2 separate regions of the Homo sapiens genome follow, and region 2 is linked to region 1. The links come from fine-mapping of genetic effects on gene expression. A gene starts in region 1. The other region holds a variant in brackets. All regions are shown on one strand. Distances are from middle to middle. Region 1 holds the start of CEP43 (centrosomal protein 43). Region 2 has its middle 30 kb from the start of CCR6.

The links. PIP is the estimated chance that this variant, and not a neighbour inherited with it, causes the effect.
Region 2: its variant is fine-mapped to the expression of CEP43 in whole blood (TOPMed, PIP above 0.99). The same link has a PIP of 0.9 or more in neutrophils.

The regions. Positions count from the first base shown.
Region 1 is chr6:166,995,528-167,003,527 of GRCh38, reverse strand. CEP43 (centrosomal protein 43) reads right to left here and starts at 4,131. Exons shown (of 13, transcript NM_007045.4): 1 at 4,014-4,131; 2 at 3,415-3,468; 3 at 281-335. The coding sequence starts at 4,115. It overlaps MIR3939 (microRNA 3939), which reads left to right and starts at 5,616; the gene lies at 5,616-5,721. RefSeq lists silencers at 3,670-3,759, 3,770-3,929, 4,020-4,539, 4,830-5,059 and an enhancer at 5,600-5,649.
Region 2 is chr6:167,086,691-167,099,110 of GRCh38, reverse strand. No RefSeq gene overlaps it. Among named protein-coding and RNA genes, the nearest start is that of CCR6, 30 kb to the left of the region's middle. RefSeq lists enhancers at 3,566-3,645, 3,846-3,905, 5,236-5,605, 5,716-5,785, 6,671-6,730. The variant T/C (reference allele first, on the strand shown) is at 6,325.

The DNA of each region.
Region 1 (8,000 bases):
TGTAACTAACTGTAAGACAATCATCTCATAGATTTCAGTGTTTCGCTTTTTAATGGTTAATATTGGCTTTTTGTAGTAAAACTGGCTTTAAGCAACAACATCCCAAATCCAAAAATATGTAATAGCAACACGATTGTTGTACAATAAAATATTATTTTAAAATGAGGACCTATAACAATTGAAGACAAAAAAAAAGCCCTGAAATTCCTGATTTCTCCCAAATGGTATCAAGATTCAAAAATTCAGAGATAGATAAACAAGAACAAACTGAACATCTTACCGTCTTTGGTATTTAAAAACTTTTTCAGGCTCTCATTAACTAAAGGAGTTTTGTTCTGTTAAAAAAAAAAAAATTTAAGTGTCATGTGTTTACCCTAAAAACAACTACAAAATATAAAGTTTAACGTTTTCATTGATAAAATTATGGTTTTACAAAATCCATTCTACAACTGTTAATTACTACAGGACTTACTTTGTGCTATTTAGTAATTTCTCAAAGTTAATATAACAAAACCATATATGAAGATTTGTATTTTTAATTTTTAAATGTTTTATAAACTGCTTTTGAAGCTAGATATTTTCAAATACCTGTGTGAAATACAATTAAATGTCAACAACTGTTTATTATTTCAAATACATGAAGTTTGATAAAAGTTTTGTCATCTCAGGTATCTACCATTTATAGCATACTTACTATGAACAGGAATTTAATTATACACTTGTAATTCCCAGTTTATCCATGAAATGTGAGATGATCTTATGCGGCCCATAGGCCAACTTATTTTTGTAATTATACATTTATTTGAATAAGTATGGAAAAAATACTTCTAGACCATCAAGCCTGTGATTGTTGCTGAGAAGAGGCTACAGTAGGTAGCACATGGTAAGCTTCCTTAAGACCACATTAATTGCTGCTACAGTGGCAGCCTCATACACTGCTGATGGGAATGCAAAATGGCATAACGAGTTTGGACAGCAATTTGGTAGTGTTTCTTAAAAGTCACAAATATTCCTAGCATGTGACCTAGTCACTTCACCTCTACATATTTTCTCAAGAGAAATCACAGATCCAAGCAAAGACTTGTATGTGACTGTTCACAGAAACCTTATTTGTAATACTCAAAAACTGGAAACAGCCTAAATGTCTGTCAGCAGGTAATGGCTAAACTGTCATATCTGTACAATGTATTAATGAAATGATTTATTAATACATACCACAACATGAATGAATTTCAAATGCATTATGTTGAAGAAACAGACCAAAAAAAAAGAGTACCTACTATACGATTCCATTTATATAATTCTTAAAAAGGTTTGGGGTGGGGGAGAGGGTTACATAAGGGGCACAAGGAAAACTTTTGAAGGTCAAAAGTTTGAAGGATATGCGCAGTACCTTGATTGTGATGATCATTTCACAGCTGCATAAATTAACTATTAAAAATCAAATTGTACATATTAAATACTTTAGCTTTACTATAGGTCAATTTTACCTCAATAAAGTTGTTAAAATAAAAGACAAGGAGAGGAGAGATCCTCAAGGTAGTTGGTAGGCTGGTTCAGGGAATTCTAAGATAGGGAGTCAACTGAAATATTTTAAGAGAATGGAGGGACAGATCAGATGTGTACTATAAACAGCCAATCTAGGAGCAATGTGGAAAAAGGACTTCAGGGAGATGGTGAGGGACACCACGGAAACGGAGACTGGCAAGTAGGAAGGGGATAAGGCAATCTGGAAAAGAAGAAACAAGCACAAAGGAGGCAGCAGAGCACTCCCTTGGGGACACTTCAGATACACACCTGACAGACACAGAGCCAGGTGATGGCTGAGCAGGTGGAAAGAAGAGCAAGGCCTAAGAAACGCTTAGATTTCTTGCCAGATAAATGATGGTCCCATTAAGGGCATAATACAGTGGGCAGTTTAACATACAGGTCTGAAGCTCGGGAAAGAAACATGCATGAAAGTTACAGGGCTGGAGTTACTGGATGAATAAGGTCAGTCTGTGAGACAGTACAGAATGACAACTGTGGATAAGTCTCAGTCAGGTGTACAGGAAAAAGATCATGCTAAAGAAACCAAGGAGTGGTCAAAACCAGGTTGTGAAGGAAAAAAACCACAGCGGTATTAAAAGCAGAATGTGAGTAAAGGAAAACAGTTTACTCCTAATAGTTATTTAAACATGTTTTCAAGCTCAAAAGAAAAGCCATCAGAAAAGGAAGGGGTCAAAGATACAGTAAATAATTAAAGACTTGAAAGTATACACAAGACAGAGTGATTATTCTTGGACAGGACAGAGCCTCTTCTTCTAAAGCAGTAAGGAAAGAGGTACAGATAAACATAGACACAGGTAAGCATTTTCACAGGTGAGCAATAGATTGAGGGACAGGAGAGGAGGACATAAAGTTAGGATCTAATGGCTTCTACCTTCCCTGTGGAGGAAGCAACAAGACCATGTGTTCAGAGAGAAGGAAGCAGGGGTGACATAGAAGGCTACTGCACAGCTAGGGTGAAGAAGAGAGCTGCTGGGCCTGCTCAGGACCTAACCAGGTTGGTACCTGCCAATTTGCAACATCAGCAATCCACAGGATTGACTGACTCTTCTCCAAGAGCACATATGTGCAAAGTGGGAAGAGTTAGTTTGCTGGGTTAAATGACCACTGAGATTTCTTCCAGACCACGTATGACCGTTAAGGCAAGGTAATTAGGGGTCCAGACCCATAGGGTCCAGAGCAAAATGCTGCCAAGAGAAGACTGATGCCTGCACAGACATGGAAAGGGCAAAGAACTGAAGATTTTGATGAAATTAGAGATTAGGTATACAGGTCTAAAGAAGTGAGAGGACAGTAGACTGATTTGTCATACAGCAAGAGTTTAAGGCTTTGATGATGGTTCTATTCTTGTTGACAAATTCCAGAATATTTACTCAGGATGGTTGGTGGGACTCCGAAAAAGTTAAATTACCCACTTAAATATAGAGTAGTGGCTGCACTTTTAAAATAATCGCTGTCTTTTTCATTGTCAAAATAATTGAGTGGTCAGATAATTTTGGGAAAAGTTGCATACTATATACCCCGTTTCATAGGGATTAATAACATATTAGCTTACTAAAGGATCTGAGTGAACCTGCACTTAACACATTGACAATGGCACCATTTCTTCAAGAAACTCCTATGACCATTTGTTTCAGATTAAGCATTAGTATCAGAGTTACTGTGGTACCTTAAGATTACCCCCAAATTCAAAAGCTACACGAAAAAAGAATAATTTTGGCTCTCTCTCAATAGTAATGTAATCCTTAACAGTTCAAAATTATCCCTAGCTATATGTTACTATAAACTATTTTTAAGACGGTTTTTAATGAATAAGAAATTAAGTATTAACGAATACAGCCATGTTAAAATCTGGAAACTTCATACCTCTACTTTTTCTTGCTCCTCTAGTGCTAAAAACACAGCTGCTCGGAGTTCAGCCTTAAAAAAAAGTTAAGAAACAGGAAATTATAATTTCAAGACAATTTTCACAACAAGCTCACATTTATCCAGCAACAAACACGAGCAAGCCAACGAGCTGGGAGGGCAGGTGCAAAGGTCAGAAACGCCTTCCGAAACGTTCTCAGTCACACAAGCTCTCCGACCCCCAGGCTTCGGCTGGACGCGCTGCTTTCCCGCCGCGGATCATGCCCGAGCCTGAGGAAGAGACGCTGGGGCCGCACTCCAGGGCCCAGCTGCGGGCCGCCCGTGTGGCCCCCAAGCCCCGCGGTCCCGCCCCCACGGAATGAGGCAGGGGATGGGCCAGGCACCCCCAGTCCGCGGTGCCCTCCGGGACCACACGAACGAACGAGCCGACCCCCTCTGTGGGGCGGGCAGGACGGAGGCCATGCCGGGGCGCGCCCCCAGTGCCCGCCGGCCCCGGTCCCTCGCCAGGGAGGCGGCCTCCTCGCCGCGACCGTTGTGACGCCCGCTGTCCACGCAAGCCCTGCGGATCCGCCAGGCCCGGCCCCAGCCTCCGGCCTCACCTTGATGCGGTTCAGGACCCCGCTGTTCTCCAGCGTCTGCACCAGCAGGTCCCGCAGCTCCGTGTCCTCCTCGGCCACCACTGCGGCCGCCGTCGCCGCCATCTTGCTTCTCCAAGACAACCGCCGAAGCCGCGCTAACGGCCAACGGCCGCAGCAGGGTACGCTCCGCGCGCGGGCTACGCGGCCGACGCAGCCAAAGCCCCGCCCCGACGCGCAGCGCGCTGGCCCTGCCCCCTGGCGTCGGGAGGCGGGGCATAGAGACCTCGGGGTTGACGCTGGACACCGAGCCTTGGGGAGCGCCGGACCACTGAGCGCCGAAACTTAGGGTCGGCGCTGGGGGCGGGGCTGCGGGGCGCGGGTGGGCACGCAAGGGGCGGGGCGTCGGCGGGGCCTCCAGCCGGCAACCCGTTGGCTGCCGTCGCCTGAGGCGCGAGCTTTGAAGCCGGCGAGCGGTGAGGAGGAGGCGCCCTCGCGTGTGGAGAGCGGACTCCGCCTGGACTCCACCGCCCACGGCCGCATCCCATCGCCGCACAAGATCGCCGGAGTCATATTATCGACGTAGTTAAAGCCCACTAGCCTAAAGCCGGGCGGACTGCGGTAAGGAGGCCCCGAGACCGAACCTGCAGCCCCTGCAGCCCCGGGGGGGCGCCGGGGAAGGGACTCCCGAGAGGTCGCGAGGGGCGGAAGGCCCTGCAGGTTGTCACCCGGAAATAACGTTCTGAGGCCCCCCAGCCAGGCGAACGCACCCTGCTCGGCCACGGCCTCCGAGGCTAACCGGAAAGGTGCCAGGCCGAGGTGCAGGGGCGGGATGGCCCCAGGAAGAGCCGAGGGCCGAGGAGGGCGTTGGGTGGGCTCCGCGCTGCCCGAACTGGGGCCGCAGTCTCCACTCCCTCCTGCCCCGCGGCCCTCCGCCGACAGCCAGGCGCCGGCGGGGAGTCCTGGACCCCTCCCGGGCCCTGGAAGCCCCGTCCCGCCGGAGCTGACGCGCCCTCTTGGTATCCATCCGGCCGCCTGGGCTGCCCCTCGCCCCTCGCCTTGGCAAAACCAGCCCCCGGACCGAGCCCTGCCTTGGAGAGTGTGGGTGCGCAAGGCCAGCCGAGCTGTCGGTTCCGGGGTTTCGGGGTGCGCCACTGTATGGCGGCGTAAGCCGAGAAGTGTCCGAGGCCGGGCTCCAGCAGTTGAGAGGCTGATTTGGCCACGGTGAAGGACGCGCCCGGAGGAAGGAAACGGGAATCCGAAACGGGCGGTGGCCGCGCCTTTCCCGAGGCCGGCGTCGAGGGCTTCAGCGCCTCAGGGTGGGCGGGAGGGGAAGGTCGTGCGACCCGCGTGGCCGGCGGAAAGGAGCAGCGGGAGCCGCGGCCGTAGGGAAGCCACGGGAAGACGGGCGGCTGCGCTGCGATGCGCGGCCCTCTCCCTGAAGCCCTCGGCTCAGGCGCCACAGGAAAGGCTCCTTCGGGCAGGCCTCAGCTTTCAGCTTAAGTTTTTTTCCTTTGGCCGAGTCAACTGCGGTGCCGAGTTGTATTTTCCTTTCAGAGGTGTGTCCGAGAACCATTCTTAGGAGACGCCTGCCGGCCGCTTTGGGATAGGGCCTGTCTGCCCATGCTGGCTTCCAAAGGCCTCTGTGTGTTCCTGTATGTGGGCGTGCACGTACCTGTCACATGTGTACGCGCAGACCACAGGATGTCCACACTGGCTTCCAAACACATCTCTGTGTTTCTGTCTGTGAGTGTGTACGCAGGTGTCAAATGTGTACGCACAGATCACAGGGTGTCCACACTGGCTTCCAAACACGTCTCTGGGTTCCTTTATGTGCGTGTGTATGCACTTGTCATGTGTACACACAGATCACAGGGCATCCACACTGGCTTCCAAACATGTCTCTGTGTTTCTGTCTGTGGGTATGTACACACATATCACATGTGGAAGAGGTAGGAAGAGGCTGGAACAGGTAAGGGTCATGAAGGTGCAGTGCACTATTGTACTGTTTGCGCTTTATATGTGTTTGGTTAGTTTTGCAAGAACATGCTGGTGAAGGAGAGAGAACCCCAAACAATTGATTAGCAGTGCTACTGAAACTCAGATATACACAGGAATGGCAAAGAAACATCTATGAAAAAAAGCAGATTCTGGAACTCCATCTCCCTGAGATTGTCACTCATGGGGTCTGCAGGAAGTTTCAGGAATCTGCATTTTCTTCTAATAAACGTGGTCCACAGGTTATAAGTTGAGATACAAATAGAATATATAAAGTAAAAAAGGAAAATTTGAAGTTTCCTGCCTAGCCCAACTCTTCTCATTGGTAGTGTCTGTTAAATTGGAAACATATCTCTTTCCAGACATATTAATACCTTTTATACAGTTGACTCTTGAACAACATTAGTTTGAACTGCGTGAGTACACTTATATGTGGATTTTTTTCAGTAAATGGAATATTTTTGGCGATGGCAACAATTTTGTGAAAAACCTCACAGATGAGTCGCTTAGCCAAGAAATATGGAAAAAAAAAGAAAAGAAAAAGCTAGATATGTCATGAATGCATAAAATATATGTAGATACTAGGCCATTTTATTATTTACTATCATAAAATATATACAAGCCTGTTATAAAAAGTTAAAATTTATCAAAACTTACACGTACAAACAGACAGTTACATGGCACCCATTAGGTTCAAGAGAGGTGTAAACAGTTGTAAAGATGCAATATTAAATAATAACTGCATCAAATTCACTGTAGTACATAGAGTACTACTGTAATGATTTTGTAGCCACCTCCTGTTGCTATTGCAGTGAGCGTCAGTGTTGCTGGTATTGGCTAAAAATTCCAAGTAACATAATCATCTCTGAGTGAGCAGTTGATCTCTCCAGTACATTGCATATCACAGTAAAAGGTAAGCTCTTGAGGTTCTCACATATTTCTCGTTGTGTTCACTGCAGTACTGTAAACCTTGCGTAACACCATGGGACCATTACGAAGTGCCGCTAGTGGTGCTGGAAATGCTCCCAAGAATCAGAGAAAAGTTAATGACATTACAGAAAAAGCGGAATTGCTTGCTGTGTATTGTAGATTGAGGTCTGCAGCTAAGGTCGCCTGCCATTTTAAGATAAATGAATCCAGTATAAGGACTGTGGTATAAAAACAAAAGGAAGTTTATGAAGCCATCGCTGCAGCTACACCAACAAGCATGAAAACCTTGCACTTTTTGGGAAATACCTTTTTATCTCATATTGCAAATGCAGCTTTTTGTGGGTGCAGGATTGCTATGAGAAAGGCATACCTATATAATCTAATATTCAAGAAAAAGTGAAGTCATTATCTGACAAAGCAAAAGGAAGATGAAGGAAGGTATGATAATTTTAAAAAGTGGGTTGGCTTTCAAAAAATGTCAAGATAACAGGAGAAGCAGCTTCTGCTGACCCAGATGCAGCCGACGAGTTCCCAGATACCATTAAGGAAATTATTGAGGACAAAAGGCCAGGCTTTGTGGCTCATGCCTGTAATCCCAGCACTTTGGAAGGCTGAGGTGGGTGGATTGCTTGAAGCCAGGAGTTCGAGACCAGCCTGGCCAACATGGCAAAACCCTGTCTCTTCTAAAAATACAAAATTTAGCCAGGTGTGGTGGTGCACATCTATAATCCCAGCTACTGAGGAGGCTAAGGCATGAGAATCGCTTGAACCCAGGAGGCAGAGGTTACAGTGAGATTGCACCACTGCACTCCAGCCTGGGAGACAGAATGAGACTCTCTCAAAAAAAAATAAATAAAAAATAAAAATAAAAAAAAATAGAGAAAATCACTGAGGAGAAAAGATATCTGCCTGAACAGGTTTTTAAGGCAAACGAAAATGCCCTATTCTGGGGGAAAATAGTGCCACAGAGGATATTTATTAGGAAGAGAAGTGAACATCAGGATCCAAGGCGGGAAGGGATGGGCTAACTGTACTGTTTTGTGCAAATGCAGCCAGATGTATGATCAGGACTGCCCTTATCTA
Region 2 (12,420 bases), 93 kb before region 1:
AGGCAACTCAGTGTTGACTGACATAATCACAAAAGATTAAAGATAATGCAACCACAAGGGGGTTCCCAGGATGTGAGGACTGTGGGTTGAACAGAATCGACACCCATGGCTGGAGTTCTAAGAGGAGCTACGGAAGACAGACGTGCCAGGAGATGCACCCACAGCAGATGCTCTTCATGCACCCACAGCAGATGCTTTTTATCCCCAAGGGTGCCTGACATGGGGCAGCAGGGAGGGGAGCTAGGAGGTTCCCTGCAGAGTGAAGCGTGTCCATGGAGGAACCCAGGGAGGAAAACTGCAGGGAGGTATGGGGAGCAGTGTGGAGGTGTCTCGGCGAGGTTCGTGCCTGGAGACTGGAATAAGGATGTTAGACTTGGGCTTTAGAAAGCAGGTACTTTGACCTGGGGACAGGGGCACTTCCATCATAAGAAACTTACTTCAAATTGTTAGAATAACGTGCCCCACACATCCACACCCAGATCGGTCCTGGGAAGCTTTCCCGGGCCTTGAGGAGCAGCGCAGCAGGAGTAAGGTCCAGGGTGGAGCGCTGAAGGATGCAGAGGCGTTTGCCACACAGGTGAGAGTCAGAGAGCACTCCAGGCCTGAGGGACTGTGTGACTCAGCCTGAGGCCAGGGAACCAGGTGCGGGAGAGAGAGCAGGGCTCCCCGATTATGACCTCCGGGCATCCACAGGACCCCACGTTTGTGCAGGGCACACTGGGGTTAGCGGGGGTGGTCTGGGCACCTAGAAGAGGCTTGGTGGAAAAAAATTGTTGCATTTCCTGTGTATAGGCGGAAGAATTATATATGAGAAAAGTAAAACAGGAGGTATCAGGGAAGGTATTGAACTGAATCAAACTTGCAAGCGGAATCTCTTCACTTTTTAAGTAGAAAACTGAGCTTGCATCCATGAACGTAGCTTTTTATATCTGGTATTAGGCTGGGAGTGGCTCTGTGGAATCCCCTTGATGAAGACATCTCCCTGTGTCGGAGCGCCGGCTCCAGCACCCGGAAGGACCCGAGAAGGCGGAAAGGCACCCTTGGAGCCCAAGACGACAGCCGCCCTGAGCTCCAAAAGGAAAGCTGTGAAGAAACCCAGGCGGCCATGACTCGACATCAGGAAACACTTCAGGCCACGCTGTCTAATGAACACCCTGTGGGCATTTAGAAGTAAACGGGACAAGCACTTCGCGTGCATCGGCCCCAGCCAGCCTTGGTTCGGTTCTGGCTGGGCCTTGAGCGCTGGGCTCGGGCAGCTCCACCTCCCGCAGATCTGGACTTCAGCAAAGCATCTCGCAGATTCCTTTAAAATCTCCTGAGAGGCCGGGCGCGATGGCTCATGCCTGTAATCCCAGTACTTTGGGAGGTCGAGGTGGGCAGATCACCTGAGGTCAGGAGTTCAAGACCAGCCTGGCCACCATGGCAAAACCCCCTCTCTACTAAAAATACAAAAATTAGCCAGGTGCAGTGGCAGCCACCTGTAATCCCAGCTTCTCGGGAGACTGAGGCAGGAGAATCGTTTGAACCCAGGAGGCGGAGGTTGCAGTGAGCCAAGATCGCACCATTGCACTCCAGCCCGAGTGACAAGAGTGAAACTCTGTCTCAAAAAAAGCAGAAAATAAATAAATAAAATCCCCTGAGATAAAATGGCAAATGTAGGCCGAATGACCCTGCTGCTTAGGTAGATTCCTTGCTGATTGAGTCACTTTGTACCACCAGGAATGGGAAGTGATATTTTTGGTGTGAAAAGAATTGATTAATGAAATGCTACATGATCGTGCCATTGGCCTTGTGCTGGTCAGAATTATTTTAAATCAATGAGTTGCATGCAAAAGGGAAAGATGATTATCAAACCTGCTGAATTCTAAGATCTGTGATGGACAACAGATGCTACAGATAGTGCTCAAGGTTCCATATTATCTCATGTGGTTGGAATTCTGAGCTGAAAACAATAAAATATGAAGATAAGGAAATTAGAAACATGTAGGTTTCCAGGGCTCTGTCTGGGACGCTGCTGTCCAGCAGGGATGTAACGTGAGCCACGTATGTCATTTTAATTTTTTAGCAGCCACATTCAAAAAAGCAAACCGAGGCCGGGCGCAGTGGTTCACACATGTAATCCCAGCAGTTTGGGAGGCCAAGGCAGGTGGATCACCTGAGGTCAGGAGTTTGAGACCAGCCTGGCCAACATGGAGAAACCCCATCTCTACTAAAAATACAAAATTAGCCGGGTGTGGTGGCGCATGCCTGTAATCCCAGCTATTTGGGAGGCTGAAGCAGGAGAATCTCTTGAACTCGGGAGATGGAGGTTGCAGCCTCCGCACTCCATCCTGGGCAACAGAGCAAGACTCCATCTCAAAACAAACAAACAAACAAACAAAACAAAGCAAACTGAAATTATTAATTTTCCAAATATTTTTATTTTAACTTGATATATCTAAAATATAATACATTCAACATGTAATCAATAAAAATTGTCAGTGAGATCGTTTAGATTTTTGTAGAAAGTCTTCAAAATCAGGTGTGTAGTTTATATTTATAGCACATCTCACTTCAGACTAACATGCTTCAAGCACTCTGTAGTCACACATGACTGGTGGCTACCATGTTGGATGGCACAGGTAGGGAAATTGGTATACATAAAAGTGATCAGACGAAGGTCATAGGTCACAAGTCTGATATAAGTCCCTGTCACAGATAATCCAGTCTTGGGCAGTGCTAGTAGTAGGGTGTATGAATTATCTATTGCCAAAACAACACTGCCCGAGAAACAACCCTAAAACCTCAGTGACACACAGTGATAACCATTCAACATTGCCCCCAAGTCTCCAGGGTGGTCCTAGGGCCACTATGACCTGGCCCAGCACACTCCCTGTCTGGTCAATCGGTCAGCCAGTGCAGGCTGGTCCAGAATGGCCTTGACAGGAACAACTCTTGTACCTCTTGTGCTCTGTCACCCTCATGCAGGCCAGCCCCAGCCTGCTGTCATGATGGAAGCTGGTTTCCAGCAGGGACCTGGTGGCACAGACTGGAACTGGCACAGCCTCACTTTGCTCACATTCCACTGGTCAAAGCAAGTCTCAGGCCAAGGCAGACTTGGGTGGGGAAGCAGACCCTCCACCTGCAATGGGAGGAGCTGTGGACCACATCCCAGAGGATGGGAGTGCCAGGAACCTATGCATGGGGGCCATCGGCACCATCAATCCACCTTAGCTGGTATTCCAGACGTGGACAGCAACAGGCCCACAGATTGCTATGCTCATCAGTAGAGAAATGGATCATTTCTTCCAGACCTGGACACCCTATCTTAGAAGTGATGTGAGTTGCGTTCAGAAACGCAACCTGAACGGTCACACATTGGGGACCATGCCTTTCCACAGCCACACATCGGGGGCCACACCCCTCTATAAAGAATTATAGCAAGTGAGTGTGTTTAGTCCCAAAATGAGAAAATTAGGGGGCAACATGAGAGCTACCTTCAAATTTTAAAGAGCTACTGTGTGGAAGAAAACAGTCTTGTTCTCAGTTCCCCTAATATTTTCTGAGGGCTCATTATATACTGTACCAGGAACTATGCTAGGTGCAGAGACAAAAGTAGAATAAGGGAAGTTTCCGTAGATACCAGCTCATCCAAAGAAGGACTTTCTAACACATGAATAAGTCACTACTATCCAATAATTCACTTGCCACAGGAGAGCTCTGAAACTGAAACTACTCAAGCAGCTGCATTGTCAAGGGAATTTCTTGCCCAGTTGTTGGTCACTGATCTACCTTCTAAGGGGTCTTCCAAATCTCAATGCTATAAGCTGGCCTTACGTGTGCCTGTTTGGCTTGTGGGGATATAATGTATCATACTTTACATGTACAGACACATCTAATATCTAATAGAGATATATCTAATCAGATATAACAACCTCAAGCAAACCCCAAGTTGCTAGGTGCTTAGTAAATTATTTTGTTACACTGAAGGCTGAAAAAGCACAGAATGATTAAATGACTCAAGATCACGTGAGACAATGGGATAAACTGGAACTGAAACAGACTGTGGGGTGCTGGTCTACGCAGTTCACAAAGCCCCCATTGCTGACTAACCACAAGCCCAGAGGGAAGGCACATAGACTACTGTGCCCCTGCTACTGGTTAGGTTTTTCTTTTACACAGAGAAATAATTTGACTTTATCTAGGCTGCTACAAAGCCAATTGTTAACAGAACTAGGATTAGAATTCAGAAGTACTAGGTGTCAGGTTTCTGTACAAAGAGCAATAGTATTCCACTGAAGCACTTCTGTTTCCCTACAAATACAACCTATCTGTGACTGTGAAACCTCAAGGAATTTGTATTGAGAACCGCTGGCGCGAAGCGGGTGATAACGATAAGAACAGGCATTGTGCACAGCTAGAGGAGCCGTCTGTGGAATGCCGATGGTCGTCTCTTGGTAGAAATAGTAAGAAACCTTAGAACTGATCTTCTTCATTCTGGAAGGCATGGAAACAGAGAACAAGCTGGCCACTGCAGAAAGTTGTAAGACCTTTCGAGGCTGGCTCGACTGCAGCTGCGTTTTGCTTGGCTGTGAGTTTGCAGAACTTTGAGGCTTTCGGGGGAAGGTAGCTAAATCTGTATCAGGGCCAAGGGCACCCCTGGGAAAATTAAGAAACACCTTCTCTTTTGAGGTTTAACTCGACTAAAACCTCTCTGATGATTAGGATGGCCTCAACGGAAGCCCACTGGCCAAAAGAACATCGATAGTTCCCAGGGGAAATAAGTCGTGAGGGAAGGAAGGGTCAACAGGAAACCAGGACTCAGGATCCTGGGCAGAGTCGGCTGGTTTCAGCACCGTCTGAGGCTCATCAGGAAGCTCCTCTCTCACCGACCGTGGCTCTCAGCACTCAGGGAGCGCCACTGAGCATGCGTGAGAACAGCCGCCCTCAGCTCGCGGGGGTGTCAGCTTCCTTTGAAAACCCCCTCGGGTCTGTGTGCACAAGGCTCTGAACTAACCCTAGTGGGTCACCACGCAGGGCCCCTTCTCAGCGCCTGCTCTCCGCTCCACGTGAGGGAAGCAAGGGCAGCGGAGAACGCGTCCCACGCAGTCAAGCCAGGGATGGGCCTCGGGCTTCCTTTCTCTGTCCACGATGCCTCTGGAAGCAGGATACGGCCCTCGAGGCGGGCTCCTGGGATTCCTGGGAACACGGGAGGGTGAGCTATGAGCAGGCCGGGGCAGGGCAATCATGGAGACTGGACTTTTGCTCATATGGGCAGAAGAGTGATCAGGAAATTATTCTGAATGTGAAAAGACATGGCCAGCGTGTGACCGGCAGATGTGTATCCTCCAGTGCTCTGGGAGAACGCAGCCCCGGCTGGTAGCCCGGGCCCGTTTCTGTGAGGTCAACACTCACACCACGGCCAATGTCAGGCAAACAACCCGGTGTCACCGAAGCAGGGTTGGTAAGAGAAGCACAGCCTGCCCCAGCTGATCGCAGCGCAGCCCAGGAGGCGAGGCCACCGCCCAGAGGATTCTGGAAACAGCTCGCCGGGGCGAAGACGCAGGCACAGACAGTGCCTTCCGTAGGGTTCCAAGTATGCAAAACCCTAGGGGAAGCCTCTTCTATTTAGTCACAGAAAACAGGTGAGCAGTTGCCTGGAGCAGGGAGAGACGGGGAGGGATTGACAGGAAGGGAGCTCAGGGAAGCTGGTGGGAGTAGAAAGTTCTAGATCTTGATTGGGGTTGCAGTTACACTGGAACACAGTCGTTGTCAAAACTCACTGAAGTGGACCCTGAGAATGGATGCATTTTGCTGTATGTAAGTTATCCCAATAAAGCTGATATTTAAAAATATGTAACACCCCTCCAAGCCAATGCTGATATTGTAAGGATGATTTTCAGTACTGGGCACCGAGCTTCAGTACTGGGCACCGAGCTTCAGTACTGGGCACCGAGCTTCAGTACTGGGCACCAGGGTAGGAGTGAGGTTCCCTGATTTTCAGTCTTTACGGAGCTTTTACCCAGAGAGCTGCAGAGGCAGCACTGGCCAGAATTACTTTGGAACGCACCGTCTGTTTCTTCCTTGTTGCTTTTCACTGGTTAGTAAGAAGATTCACGAAGCTCCTCTGCCTGGCCACCTCCCCCCAACATCAACACACACTGGCACAGGTTCTGGAGGGCATCATTCAGACCCATGCTGTAAACACCCTTTACAGGCTGAGCCCTGAGTCCGTTTCCTCAGCAAAGTACCACAAACAATGTGGTTTAAAACAACGGAAACCTACTTCCTCACTCTTCGGGGGCCAGAGGTCCGAAATCGAGGTGCTGTCAGGGGTGGCTCCAT[T/C]TGGAGGCTGTGCAGGGAACCGTCCCCAGCCTCGCTTCCCATTTCCGGTGGGGTCTGCAGTTCCTGGTGCCCCTTGACTTGTGAATGCATCACTCCAATCTATGCCTCCGTCTTCACAAACCCTCCGTCTCTGCGTTCTCTCCTGTTTTCATAAGGCCTGCCCTGAATGCAAGATAATTTCACTTTGAGTCCCATAACTAATTGCAACTGCAAAGGCTCTATTTCCAAATAATATAAAATAATATTCCAAATAATATTCTGCGTGAACATGAATTTTGGGAAGACACTATCCAGTTAATAATCATATTAACCGACTCCACTCCTACACGCTGTCTTCAGCCTAGAGCCTCCTGTGGAACTCCAGACGCCGACCCCCACTCAGAGTATTCAGAAGAGTCTCAGATCTGAAGCCAAACTCAATTTCACTCCCCAGACCTGTTCCTCCGACATGTGCTATCATCAAAGCAACAGTCAGTCCTTCCAACTGCTCAGGCCCCAAACCTTGCAGTCGTGCTTGGATTCTTTCTCCACATCAAATACGTCAGCAAAATCAGCAAATGTTCCTGGCCATCTCCAGGATGTATTAATAGTGTATATCCCACATTCATAGCCAGTCATTCCCACTCCTTCCTGCCCCAAACTTTTGCCCTCCAGAGAAGGCAAAGCTTTAGCATGATTCAAATCATGTCTGGATTCTGTTCTGAGCTCCCCAGGGCACCCCACATGCGCCAGGATAATGCCCTGTGTCCTCCCATGACTTAGAGGCCCCGTGGAGCCCTCGCCCTTGCCCTGCTCTCCTCCCGCTGCCCTGTGTCCTTCCCAGCTCTGTTGTTTATGCCAGTTGCCCCGGCAATCACACTGTGTCTGGGATCTGTCCAGCCGGTCCCTGCTCTAGGGCCCTGGTCCTTGCTGCTTCTCTCCCAGGTTGCTCTCCAGACAACCACACTGTCGGCCCCTTGGGTGTCTCAGTTCAAGCTTCCCTGACTACCCAGCTTAAAAGAGCTTCCCGATCCCAACTCCCTTCCTGGCTCTGATGCTGCTTCCTTTTCTCCTGGGCACTGGTCCCCTCCTGGCACGTTGTCGCTTGGATGTAAGGCCCCATAGAGAAGGCGCTTAGCCTGCATTCCTGCCTACCCAGGGTCTAGCGCAGACAGCAGGCGCTCAAGAAAGAGTTGCTGAGTGAGCGTGTGAATGAAGACTTGATGACTGACATACAAAATTAAAGAATCTGGGGTTTTTTAAAAGCTTATCTCATTTTTTGCAACAATCTTTAGACCTGATCTTCGATCAGCCTTTAGCTGATGTATAGATAGGGTGAGGTTGCCACAATCTGGGGTAGATCAGCTTTGTGACTTGTCATCTAAAAAGGGGAAGAGGTTTAACTTGAAAGAGAAAAAAAAAACAGTAGACGACCTTTATGTGGAACAGTTACGCGAAGCCTCATCGGTGGCCAGGCAACTTCCTTTCCAACTTCTTCTTACTCGGGACCCTCTGCCCATGTTTACATCTTGCCAAAGACCATGGAAACTGGTAAACATCTTGCCAAATAAAGCTGTTTAGACTGACTGAACATGCAAAGACGCCCTCTGTCCCTTGGACAACTACAGGTCAGGGAAATGAATGGAAGTCACATGAGACTCTACTCTTTCAAATTCCCTTTTAAAGTGGAAATTCCCTCGCTTGGTTATAGTATTAAAGGGAACAAGCCTAAGAAGTGGAATTACAGGAAAAATGGGCACGTGAGGATATGAGAGTATAGATGGTGTACGCTCATAGATGGTACAGAGTAGATGGGCATCATTTGGATAGAGAAACACAAAACACTCTTTGCTGAACTTGAAGATGATATTGCTGGTTAAGAGCACAGACTTGGGAATTATATCAGCATTTGAATCTCGACTCTTGACCCTACTACTTCCTAATGGGGTGATGTGTGTAAAGTTGTTAATCTTTCTGAGCCCTACCTGCCTCATGTGTGGTATATAGAGATGCAGGCACCTCAAAGGCCTGAGTCTGACACACAGTGGATGGCGAAAATTGGAGAGCTGGAGGAGGAGAGGCACATAGGTCATGCCTAAGTCATGAGAACATACAAACAACAAAATCAACAATAGAAATCTAGCTTCACTTGATTGATCCAGCTTGTCGGAAGATTGCTAAGAGATTCCACTCAACAACTAAACCGCCGTTCCACACTATGATTGCTGACTTGAGGCTGGTAACACCTTTTGGGAACGCTGTCTTGGGAACGTTCACAGGAAAATTGCTCCTTTGGGTACAAGGTTTTGAGATACAATCTCTGGGTCAATGAGTACTTTACATACAGGAACCCCAAAATGGAGGAAGTAGGCTATGGAGGAACAAGAAAAGAAGGGAAAAACAAAGCAGCCACAGAGGCGAGGTGGCTGCTCCCCTTCCTGCCACCTGGAGGAAGTTGGAGGCTAGTTCTGGAGACATCACAGTTTCTATTACTTTGGTTACTTGGCAGAGCCTAAAAACTTCCTCTTGTGTGGAAGAAAGAAAATCCTTTCTGTGTTGCTCCCTGGAGGGAAGAAAACCAGGCTGACTCTTGCTTCCATTTGAGGAGCTCAAAGGAAGCCATTTCCCACGATGGTCCCCCAGGCACAATCCTGCATGGAGCCCAGCCCTGGCCCACAGCTCCTTGACTACAATCCCCTTGACCCATTCATCACCCTTGCCACTGGCCCTATTCTTTGTGACTTGGCTCAACACTGGTGACTTCTTCTGCTGCCCTATTCACCTCCAGTCTGAGACTCAGGAGCATGTGGCCACCTGCTGCCACAGAGATGCCACACACATGGCCCAACGCCAACGGGGTCGCTTAAAATACATTGCTGATCTGTGGCCTATGTCTGGAGGAAAGGGGCCGGTGGGGTCCTACAGTGACCCGAGAGGCTCCTATTCTGAACCACAGAGAGCACCACACCAAGAGGCTGGTGTGATATGCTGCTGGGCCCACAGTTTTCATGGGCCCCATGTGCCTGGAGTGAAAGGTCTTTAGATCAATCAAAGAGATCCAGTGTCTGGGGAGTTCTTGTTTCTTCACACTGACCACTTCAATAACGCAAGGACGGGGATTTTCTTGGCTTTGACCAAGGCTGCAGTCTCTCCAGAGCTGAAAACTCAAGTTACTTCTGCCTGGTTCTGGCCTCCCCTGACTCGGCTCTGCCATTAACCAGTAAAACTAGTATCTCCTGTTCTAGAGGGAGGTCGTCATCCTGGTAGAGGGCCATGTGTAAGGATCTGCACCCCTCTGTTTAATTCTCCAGGAAGGTCACTGCAGCTGAGGTCAACTTCCTCCCCAGAGAAGCAAAACCTGTTGGCTGCAGAGGCTGCTTGTTAAACAGAGAGGCGTTACCTCCAGGAGATGTGTGACATCAGACTTTTCAGGGATAGTGCCCAGAAAGCTCAGAAACTTTGCTTAACAAACTCTTCCAGGTGATTCTGATATTAGCTAAATCTGAAAACCACAGAATTAAATGATGTTAGTTTTTTTCCCTCGAAATTTAAGTTTCATACTGACCCTTGAACTACTTATACTGAAAACATTTCAAACATTGATAGTTCATTGATACTAGCAACTGATCTGAAATTATTACTTTGCCTAAAAAAAACTGACAATTTCAGAATATTATCATTCCTTAGTAGTTTGCATTTATGACATTAGATAGTTCCAACTCCTTCCTCCACTTTGTGCAAATGATTTCATGTATCTTATTTCTACATCTGTCATAAACCCTGTTTACTATTTTTAATTTAGTTAACAATTTTTTTTTTTTTTTTGAGACAGGGTCTCACTCTGTTGCTCAGGCTGGAGTGCAGTGGTGCAGTCATGCCTGACTGCAACCTCACCCTCCTGGGCTCAACCTCCTTGCCTCAGCCTCCTGAGTAGCTGGGACTACAGGCATACACCACCATGCCCAGCTAATTTTTGTATTATTTGTAGAGACAGGGTTTCACCATGTTGCCCAGACTTGTCTCAAACTCCTAAACCCAAGCCATCTGCCCATCTCAGGCTCCCAAAGTGCTGGGATTACAGGCATGAGCCACTGCACCTGGCCACCATAGTTGACAGTCTTTTAAAGAATCAGCCATGAGAAAATGTTTTTAATATCCACTTTTACTATTTCTGGTGCTCACTTCTCTGTGTAACCCCAAATTTTTATCTGGTATAATTTTCCTATAGCCTAAAGAACTACCTTTAACATTTATTGTAGCACAAGTCTCTCAGCAGTGAGTTATCTTAGTTTTTCAGGGTCTAAAAAGCTTTTATTTTTGCCTTTAATTTAAAACAATATTTTAATGGATCTGTAATAGAATAATAGAATTCTGGATTAATTGTTTCAGTACTTTAAGATGTCAGTTCATTAACATCCAGCTTACATGTCTGACAAGAAATCTATTACAATTATCTTTCTTCTTGGGTATGTAATGTCCCCCACAACTCCCAAATGCATTCTACATTTTCTCCTTATCTTTGGTTTTAAAAAGTTTGATTTTATGTGTCTAGGTGGGGTTTTTTTTTTTTTTGGTATGGAGATTTTTTATTTGTTTTTGTATTTATACTGTTGGGATTCCCTGAGCTTCTTGGACCTGAGGTTTGCTGTCTTGCATTATATTTGCAAATTATCTCTTTAAATATTTCTTCTGTTTTATTCCTTGCTGTTTGTTTGCTTGTTCTGGGACTCCAACTGCATGTACATTAGATGATCTCACAGCTCTTGGAGGCCTTGTTAGACAGAGTTTTTCCCTCTATTTTATGTTTTTTTTTTTGTTGTTTTTTTTTTTTTTTTTTTTCTGAGACAAGAGTGTCACTCTGTCGCCAAGGCTAGAGTGTAGTGGTGTAATCTTGGCTCACTGCAACCTCCGCTTCCTGGGTTCAAGCAATTCTCCTGCCTCAGCCTCCCGAGTAGCTGGGACTGCAGGCATATGCCCCCACACCAGGCTAATTTTTGTATTTTTAGTAGAGATGGGGTTTCACTGTGTTGTCCAGGCGGGTCTTGAACTCCTGACCTTGTGATCCACCTGTCTTGGCCTCCTGAAGTGCTGGGATTACAGGCATAAGCCACTGTGCCCAGCCCATTTTATGTTATTTGTGTGTCATTTTATATGATTCCTGTTGACCTATCTTCAAGTTCCTTAATCTTTCTTCAGCTGAGACTAGTTCACTGATAAGCTTTCTGAAGGAATTCTTTATGTCTTATATATTTTTTGTAGCATTCCCACATGTCTTTTATACTCTCTATCTCTCTGCTGAAATTTCCCATCTGTTCATGTATGCCATATGCCTTTTCCTCTAGATCATTTAACAAATTCTTCAGGGCTTTTTTGTATTGTTTTGTTTTTGTTTTTGTTTTGTTTTGAGATGGAGTTTTTGTTCTTGTCGCTCAGGCTGGAGTGCAATGGTGCAATCTTGGCTCACTGCAACCTCTGCCTTCTGGGTTCAAGCAATTCTCCTGCCTCAACCTCCCTAGTAGCTGGGACTATAGGCACCCAGCACCACGCCTGGCTAATTTTTGTCTTTTTAGTAGAGATGGGGTTTCACCATGTTGGCCAGACTGGTCTCGAGCTCCTGACCTTAGGTGATCTGCCCACTTTGACCTCCCAAAGTGCTGAGATTACAAGTGTGAGCCACCATGCACAGCCTCATCAGAGTTATTTTAAAGCCCCTGTCTTAGAGTTCCCACATCTGGGCCATCTTGAATTCTGGTTCTATTGATTGATTGCTTTATAAGTTGACTATGAGTTGTTTTTGTTTTTGTTTTATTTTGTTTTCTTAACTGTCATTTTTTGATTTACTGCTGGAAATCATGTGTAAAAGTAGACACTGTTTATGCCCTTAAAAAATAGTTTCATGTCAGGGTGAGGCATCGCCTCACCCGGGAAGCACAAGGGGTCAGGGAATTCTCTCTCCTAGCCAAGGAAAGGGGTGACAGACGGCACCTGGAAAATCGGGTCACTCCCACCCTAATACTGCACTTTTCCGACAGTCTTAGCAAACGGCACACCAGGAGATTATATCCTGTGCCTGGCTCAGAGAATCCCATGCCCACGGAGCCTCACTCATTGCTAGCA